2 linked regions of the Homo sapiens genome follow. The protein of the gene in region 2 purifies or fractionates together with the protein of the main gene of each other region. This does not show direct contact. Each region holds a gene or a part of one and is shown on either strand. Other genes may lie near its edges.

Evidence for each region. The genes of interacting proteins can lie anywhere in the genome.
Region 1: the proteins of ARPC5L (region 2) and ARPC1A fractionate together in Homo sapiens (co-fractionation; 7 studies listed by BioGRID and IntAct, with this or other methods). This does not show direct contact.

What each region holds. Positions count from the first base shown.
Region 1 is NC_000007.14:99,363,857-99,366,762, reverse strand, and holds the end of ARPC1A (actin-related protein 2/3 complex subunit 1A), read right to left. Parts: intron 873-2,906; coding exon 834-872; 3' UTR 501-833; downstream 1-500. UniProt on the Homo sapiens protein: Probably functions as a component of the Arp2/3 complex which is involved in regulation of actin polymerization and together with an activating nucleation-promoting factor (NPF) mediates the formation of branched actin networks.
Region 2 is NC_000009.12:124,872,108-124,878,252, forward strand, and holds the end of ARPC5L (actin-related protein 2/3 complex subunit 5-like protein), read left to right. Parts: exon of another isoform or gene 1-1,559; coding exon of another isoform or gene 1,560-1,579; exon of another isoform or gene 1,580-1,584; coding exon 1,585-1,657; intron 1,658-2,867; coding exon 2,868-3,044; intron 3,045-4,770; coding exon 4,771-4,833; 3' UTR 4,834-5,626; downstream 5,627-6,145. UniProt on the Homo sapiens protein: May function as component of the Arp2/3 complex which is involved in regulation of actin polymerization and together with an activating nucleation-promoting factor (NPF) mediates the formation of branched actin networks.

The DNA of each region.
Region 1 (2,906 bases), on a different chromosome or scaffold from region 2:
ATGGCTTGGTGCCCCCTGGCAGGAATGAGTGTGTTCTCACTCTATGACCTGGTTGTTTCAAGGAGCCTGGTCCTCCCCACTCTCTCTTGCATCCTCTCCCGCCATGGGACACGCCTGCTTCCCCTTCGCCTTCTGCCATGAGTAAAACCTTCCTGAGGCTTCCCCAAAAGCAGACGCAGGCACCATGCTTCTTGTCCAACCGGCAGAACCGTGTGCCAAATAAATCTTTTTTCTTAAACAAATTACCCAGCCTCAGGTATTCCTTTATTGCAACACAAAACAGACCGACACAACCTACTTTGCAGAAGTATTGCAATGTTCAGAAACGGTTCTCTCTCACCCCTCACTAAATGGTGCTTTTTGGTTCAAGGTTGTATAGAATGGTACAATTTAAGAAACCAAGGATCTAAGATTTTGCCTAAAAAAAACTGAATCGAATGAAGAATTCGCTCATATTTTTCTACTAAAAATTGAAATACTACAAGGAAACAAAACCAAAACCACATTCAGTTCTTTTATTTAATTTTCTAGTGGACAATTTACATATCTCCCTCACCCTGTCTTTTAAGTTAGTGTGACAATTTTCCATAATAAACTACTTAAAGAGAAGCTTTGGTCAAGAATGGAATGAAATCGCAAAAAAACAAACAAAAAAATTACTGCCTTAAAAAAACCAACACTTTCACCAATTTTATATTCAAACAAAACCACACGGCATTGGCGTGATATGTGTTTTCAGTGTTTCCTTGGGGCTGGCTTCCTCGCCATCGTGCCACGGCACAGCTGCGGTCGGCCACAGTTTGTCATGCTGGATGGCGGAGGCTCACTCAGCTTCACATTATCCGGAGGCCCTGGATGGAAGACTCGAGGGTCTTGGAAAAGGTGGGAAGAGCACTGATGTCACTGAGGAGTGTCTACCCCGAGGTAGGTATGACACCACTCCCTCTTCCTCAGGGAAGGTTCTGCCTGTCCCCACCCTGAACCTGGCCCTGCCCCACCTGAAACAGGATCTCCCAGGACTCACCCCGCAGAGACACTCCAGGCCGGGGCTCCCCCTGCTGGCTCCTCCAGGCCAGGTGTGCCTTTTCCCCACTGCCACACACACAGGCTCTGGGCACACTCCTCACTCCTCTTTTTTTTTTTTTTTAAAGATAGGGTCTTGCTCTGTTGCCCCAGGCTGGAGTGCAGTGGTGTGACCACAGCTCACTGCAGCCTCCAACTCCTGGGCTCAAGTGATCCTCCTGCCTCAGCTTCTCAAGTAGCTGCAACTAAAGGCATGCGTCACTGCACCTGGTTTTTAAAAATATATATATGTATATTTTTAAATAGAGACAGGATCTCACTGTGTTGCCCAGGCTGGTCTCGAACTCCTGTGCTCAAGACAGGAAAGCAGTGAGGAGAAACGAGCCTCAGCTTCCCAAAGTGCTGGGATTACAGGAGTGGGTCAGTGCGCCTGGCTGCACCTGGCTTTTTTATAGAGATGGGGTCACGCTATGTTGCCCAAACTGGTCTCAAAACTCCTGGCCTCAAGCGATTCTCCCACCTCGGCCTCCCAAAGTGCTGGGAAGACAGGCATGAGCCACTGCGCCTGGCTACCTAGAGCTCTTTTTTCTAGCTCCATCTGTGCTTCCGGAGGACCACAGCACGGGCAGCGCCTCAGAGGCAGTGTGCGCTCTCTGAAGCCCAGGGCTGCCCTGGGTGTGCTGCACTTGCAGCCGAGGATGCTCGCCTGTGTCTTCTCAACTCACAGTCCCTCCCTCCAAAACCCATCGCAACTCAGGATGCCGCTCAGGTGCAACCTGTTCCCTGCAGTCCACGCATCCCCCTAGATTCCTCTGTGTGAAAACAGAGGCACTGGCTTCTCTTCTGAGCTCTGCCGAATCCCCTACCCAGCCCCCGTATCCACCTCTCTCTTCTACCAGACAGGCTCATTCAGATTGGATATTCTCAGTGCTCAGCATCATGCATGGCACCCAGGAGATATGTACTAAATGTTTATTAAATTAATTAGTGTCAGCTATAAATATATATCTATATAGTTAAACCTGGGCTGGTGTCCAATAGGGCCTGTTTCCAAAACAGCACTCCATTTTTCCTCAATGAATAAATGGACATCTAGAAGTAAAAATTCCAGTTCACTGAGAATGTGCCGTTCTTCTGCGGATGACTTTTAGGTTTTAAAGAGATCTCTGGCTGGGCGCAGTGGCTCACGCCTGTAATCCTGGCACTTGGGGAGGCTGAGGCGGGTGGATCACCTGAGGTTGGGAGTTCGAGACCAGCATGTCCAACGTGGAGAAACCCCATCTCTACTAAAAACACAAAATTAGCTGGGCGTGGTGGCACATGTCTGTAATCCCAGCTACTTGGGAGGCTGAGGCAGGAGAATCGCTTGAACCCCAGAGGCGGAGGTTGTGGTGAGCCGAGATTCTGCCATTGCACTCCAGCCTGGGCAACAAGAGCGAAACTCTGTCTCAAAAAAAAAAAAAAAAAAAAAGAGAGAGATCTCCAAGGCTGGCATGGTGGCTCACGCCTGTAATCCCACCACTTTGGGAGGCCAAGGTGGGCAGATCACATGAGGCCAGGAGTTCAAGACCAGCTTGGCCAACATGGTGAAACCCCGTCTGTACTAAAAATACAAAACATAGCCGGGTGTTGTAGTGTGCTCCTGTAATCCCAACTACTTGGGAGACTGAGGCAGGAGAATCGCTCCAACCCGGGAGGCGGAGGTTGCAGTGAGCCAATATTGCACCGCTGCACTGCAGCCTGGGTGACAGAACAAGACTCCATCTCAAAAAGAAAGAAAAAAAAATGAGAGATTTCCAGTTTAATGTCTTACATTAGGACATTAAACTGTATACTAGATTTAACATTTTGTTTCAAGAAATGAGAAACATTCTTCTCATAAG
Region 2 (6,145 bases):
CGTGGTGCTGAGTTAACGCCACAGCAGTAGCTTTTTGCCCCCGTGGACTAGTTTTATACCTGCCCTTCCCCATCCATCATTTGAATGATGTCATTTGTTAGTTGTGCCAGGTTTACATGAAGAGCAAGTGAGCCTATGTTTTCTGTTCAGCCTATGGGATCCTGCTTATTGCTTTGGGGACACCACATTAGAAAAGAGTTACAAGGGCTGGGCGCGGTGGCTCACACCTGTAATCCCAGCACTTTGGGGAGGCCGAGGCGGACAGATCACGAGGTCAGGAGATCGAGACCATCCTGGCTAACACAGTGAAACCCCGCCTCTACTAAAAATACAAAAAAAATTAGCTGGGCGTGCTGGCGGGCGCCTGTCGTCCCAGCTACTCAGGAGGCTGAGGCAGGAGAATGGCATGAACCTGGGAGGCGGAGCTTGCAGTGAGGCAATATTGCGCCACTGCACTCCAGCCTGGGCGACAGAGCGAGACTCCGTCTCAAAAAAAAAAAGGAGTTACAAAGTAGAGGTTATCAGTGGCTGATATCAGGCTGGCCTTGTTTGGATGGGGAAAAGGAACTCCAGAACTGAAAGACAGAGGGACTGGACTGCCTCTTGAGTGTGGAAGGTGGATCAGAGCCAAGCAGGGAGCTGGGGAACCAGCGCTGGGAGTGGCTTGCCTGGTGGCGCAGACCCAGCTCACTCAAGATGGATCTCATACTGGGGAAGCCAGGAGATTCAGCTCTGCTCCGAAGGCCCTTCCTGTCTGCACGTGGGTATCACTGCATGAAGAGGAGTAGAGACCCGATTGGGCAGAAGCCATTCCTTGTTCTATTTTTGAAGCTTTTTGGCTGAAGCCAGTGTTTCATACGAGGAAATGAAAGTTGGCTGATGTAATTCAGTTTAAAATAGGTGTCACCTTTGGGGACCTAACCCAGATTGTAATTTTCTTTTGCATGCTGGGTATTCAGAACTCAGCAAAGAATGTGTTGTCAGGATTGCAACTGAGGTTGGGGGGTAAGGGTGGAGACTGGCTCATTGTTGGCAAAAGCTTCTGTTAGATTGATAAACTCTTTCCAGGTAACAGTTGGGACCTCATTGATCCCGATAGATCTTAGAAGTTCTAGCACATCTTAATTTCCTTAATAGTTTAATTGATGAAGAGCATTGATGAAGAGTTAGGAGGTCTCCCTTTGTACCTACATTTTCCGCTTTTTTAGAATGAGAAGATGAGAACGACCTCCAGTTCACATGTACGGGTGCTGTGAGGATCCAGTAGGGGAGATACAGTGCTCAGCACCAAGCAGGTGCAAGTGAGCACAATCCAATTTTACATCAAGTTACCCCTCCAGGACAGTTGCTTTGACGTGGAAGGTAGAGAGGGAGTTGAAAGGAGGGTTTGCATGGTTGGCAGAGGTGCCCTGCAGCCTCCCTGTGCAGGCTGTAAACCGTCTCTGCCCCCCTGGAAGCCGTGGAAGGTGGGTGGTATGGATGAGATCCCATCTGACTCTGTTCCTGAGCTGTTTCTGAAGTGAGCTTGTTCATGACGGCATGGATGTGCTTGAGCCTAGCTATCCTTAACTGGTGGTGATGCACAGGGGACATGCTTCGGGCATTCCATGCAGCCTTGCGGAACTCTCCCGTCAACACCAAGAATCAAGCTGTGAAGGTAAAGGGGTGGCGCTGCGGCTCTGCTGGGTGCTGTTGGGACCAGGGCTGTGGGTGTCTGCCCAGTGCGAGTGTGAGCTTTCATCCACATCAGAGGGAGTGAGTTGGCACTGGGCGGGGCTTCCAGGGAAGCCTCCTGGCGCTCCCTAGGTGGTGAGGCTTCTCTGACATCAACGCTGTCAGCGTTTATATACGAGAACCTCCCCACAGAAGCCTTCACTCCTGCTCACGGCCTCGTAGGCTGAGAAGTCAGCCTGGCCCTGGCTGATGAGGAAAATGGATGAATTCGCTCACCTGTGGTGCTTATGCTCCCACAGACTGTTAAATAGGCTTTGTCTGCCTGAGGATTTTAAGTACCCGTACGCTTTCCTACCTTCTAAAAACTAAATTGTGCTTACTGCATCACCAAGTCTAAAATTTGGTTCAGAGAAAGGGGTCTCCCTGCAGCTGGGATTCTGGCAGCTGTGACAGCATCTTGATGTCACCAGTGGCTGCACCTTCACAGAGTTCTGGGGAATGGCCCCACCCTTCTGGGTGTGAACACAAGAGGGACGCTGCAGCCGAGTCAACCTGGTTTTATTTTTATTTTTTAATAGTCCACCACCATTGTGGAGTATAATAAGGCCTTATTGGTGTCATCTAAAATAGTGATGGGCTGGGTGCCATGGTTTATGCCTGTAATCCCAGCACTTTGGGAGGCAGGAGGATCGCTTGAGCTCAGGAGTTTGAGACCAGCCTGGGCAACATAGCGAGACTTTGTCTGTATTAAAAAATAAAAAAAATAATTAGCTGGGCATGGTGGCATGTGCCTGTAGCCCTAACTGAGGTGGGAGGATTGCTTGAGCCTGGGAGAGGCTGCAGTGAGCTGAGATTGCACCACTGCACTCTAGCTCAGGCAACAGAGCGAGACCCTGCCCCTCCCTCCCTCTCTCCCTCTTTTCTCTTCTCTCTCTCTCTCTCTCTCAGAGTTGATACTTGTCCTAGTAAACTACTTACTCCCCCAAAATAAGTAGGGTAACTTGTTGGCATAAATAAAAGATACTTTGAAATTTAAATCCACAAAAGACGTTCTAACCCACTTATTTTAACCATCCTGGACGAATTAGAAACTGGGCAGTGTTTCTGGTGATCTGTGTCCTTGCTTTGGTGTGGGGCATGGCATGGCGGTGCCTTCGCAGCTCTGGGACTCACTTGCTCTTTTTCGTCTGCAGGAGCGAGCCCAGGGCGTGGTGCTGAAAGTGCTCACAAACTTCAAGAGCAGTGAGATTGAGCAGGCTGTGCAGTCACTGGACAGAAACGGCGTTGACTTGTTAATGAAGTACATTTATAAAGGCTTTGAGAAGCCCACAGAAAATAGCAGCGCAGTGTTACTCCAGTGGCACGAAAAGGTATGTGAACGCTGCCACGCGCCCCAGTGAGCCACCTGGCTTGCCTTGGGGTTCGATCAGCAGGCCAGATTTTCCAGAACAAACGTAGGACGGTCTGATAGGCGTGTGGGGTCAGAGGACGAGCCCCAACCTGGGACATGTCATCACTTCCCTCTCCCAAGGAAGCTCCTGGTAGGGACCTGCTGTCTGTGGTAATTGCAGTTACTTTTTTGCTTTTTAGCTGCCGATTTATGTCAGGCAAGACAGGGTGCCCTTGGTACAGGACATGTGGGCAGATAACATGGCATAGTAAGGTGGTCAGGGAGTCTAGGTAGGAAGGGGGCCTGCTGGTTGGTTGGGGCTTCATGATACTTGCAGTGGTGGAGGCAGCTGTTGGGGGTTCTTAGAAATAGAGTCCTCCAGCCAGCTCTAAGGGCTTCCTGCCCTGGCCTCAGCCTTAGCAGGCCAGAGTGAGCAGTGGGCAGAAACCTTGACCTCACTTAATATGGCCTTCGTCCAGGTGAAGCAGAAAGAGCTGTGTCTGCCCTTCGCTTGGGTCCGTGTGAGAGCAAGGCCTTTGGCAAGCCTGTGTCGTGCCTGTACCACTGGGGCTGCCTCCCACACCCTCCCCTGCACACCCCTAGTGCCGCAGTAAGCACGCCCACCATTAAAGCAGACCAGGAGTTACTAACCTGCCTGCCTTCCTCAGAGGCTCAGTGTTGAGTTGGAAGAGAGGGGTTTTACAGTGGGCCAGTCCTTAAGGTGGTGTGGGTGCTGGGCTGTGGTTGTGGCCTTAGGTCTGCTGGCGGGTGTGCTGCACCTCCTTGGCCTCCCCTCTCCTGGGCTCAAGGAAGTAAACAAGTCCTCTGTATGATGGGGAGGCCAGGACCTCTCGTCCCTTTAAGGCAGCTTGGTGCCTGCCAGTCACCTCAGCGGGCGGCAGTCAGTGGGCTTGTGTGCATCTGTAAACTCAGCACTTTGGGAGGCTGAGGCAGGAGGATTGCTGGAGCCCAGGAGTTCAAGAACAGCCCAGGCAATGTAGTGAGAACCCATCTCTACAAAAAAATAAACTAGGCTGGGTGCGGTGGGCTCACGCCTGTAATCCCAGCATTTTGGGAGACGGAGGCAGGCGGATGACCTGAGGTCAGGAGCTCAAGACCAGCCTGGGCAACATGGTGAAACCCCGTCTCTACTAAAAATACAAAAATTAGCCGGGGGTGGTGGCGGGCGCCTGTAATCCCAGCTGCTCGGGAGGCTGAGGCAGGAGAAGCGCTTGAACTGGGGAGGCAGGGTTGCAGTGAGCCGAGATCGTGCCATTGCACTCCAGCCTGGGTGACAAGAGCGAAACTCCGTCTCAAAAAAAATAAATTAGCCGGGCCTGGTGGTGCACACCTGTGGTCCCAGCTACTCAGGAGGATGGCTTCAACCCAGGACATCAAGGCTGTGCAGTGAGCTGTGATCTGGGCAACAGAGTGAGACCCCATCTCAAAAGGGAAGCTCGAGGGCTCTGCTTTGTGTGCTGGTGACAGTGTTCTCAAGCCAGTTCTGCCCAAGAGCCAACAGCTCTCGGGACCCCACGGCTCCAGGACAGGGCTCCTTCCCTAGAATGTGCTCTATCTCAGGAATCCTCTTTCGAGGATCTGTGACGGGATCTAGGTCAGGGAATGTCCCCCCTGTCTCTGGCAAGCCAGGCTCCCCTTGGCCAGCCAGGTCTCATCTGACACGTTTTCTTTTCCTGCCCCCACAGGCCTTAGCAGTAGGAGGACTAGGCTCCATTATAAGAGTTCTTACAGCAAGAAAGACTGTTTAAAAAAAATAAAAAGACTCATGTTACCTTGAGAAGAATTCTGGATGCCCAGGCTGGTGAAGAAGGGATTGACAATGGACCATCTTCCTAGGAACTCCCAAGTAAACTATTTCAGGACATGTATCTGCTGAAATGTATTTTATTTTCAAGGTGGAGGGGAAAATCGTCTGTTTCCTAAATCCTGTTTAGGATCTGATAGTCTATGCCTTTGTCTCCGAGTACTGCAGAACTGACATTTTGACGGTCTACCAGCGTGGCGGCTGGTGTTGGTCAGATGCACCTGTGTGCACTGGGGGAGGGATGGTTTGGGCAGGTGCAGATCCAAGGGCTGTGGTAAACGGGAGAGCTTGTGTTTTTGAAGTGGAAAAAAACCCAAGAGTTTGTACAGACATCCTGTCTTCCCAGAGAAGGTGGACACTCTTGGGCTCATTGTAAAGTGCCTGCTGCATCAATAAAGCTCTTGGCTTATTAGTCTATACATTGCGGTGTGTTTCGTGTATGTAAAAAAAAATGGTAATGAATGGGATGGTAATGAATGAGAGTTCAGTTGTTGTTCCGGAAACCCGATGTGGAAGGAGTAGACCTGTGTCCCTGTTGAGCCACCCCTGGGAGCGAGCATGGCAATCCACAGGCCCTCTGCCACAGGACGCCAGCCTCGGCCTCAGAGCTGCCGGCTGCTGCAGAGAGGTGTTTGCTGAATAAACTATTTATTGTTTCTTATTCCTTTGATTTGTATGTAATTAATTTTGGAGCTTATTTAATTAATTTAATAAAGTGCCAAACATTTAATAATTGATCTAGGCTTTAAAAGTCTTCAGTTTGTGGGATTGCACTTGGAATCTTTTGAGGGTGGGGCCTCAGATGTGCCTGGTCACGTCTCCTGATGCTGGGTTGGCTGTGCTGCAGAATCACTGCTGCATGGACAAGCTTTCTTTAAAGAACTAAACGTCAGAAATGGGGAGCAATCAATCAGCAAATAGATGGTATAATTTGGTTCCCCATAACCAATAACAGAGCTTCTCTGAAGGGCAAAAATGCTTTTCTTTCCTTTTCAGCACATGTGACTGCAGCTTGCATTCTGTTAAAGGTTAGGGCCCCATTCACACTCCAGAAGCTCCTCTGGGTCATACAGCCTTTGGATACAGACTTTGACCAAAGTGACACAGTCCTCCCCTCCACAGCTCTCCCCTCCTCAGTCCCTCTTCAGAACCACTGCAATTCTTGGGGGGGGTAGAATGGGGCTGTTGGCTTCATTAAATTACGTATATTTATTCACCCAAATCCAGTCTGGGAAGGTTCTTTCTGAAAGAAAGAC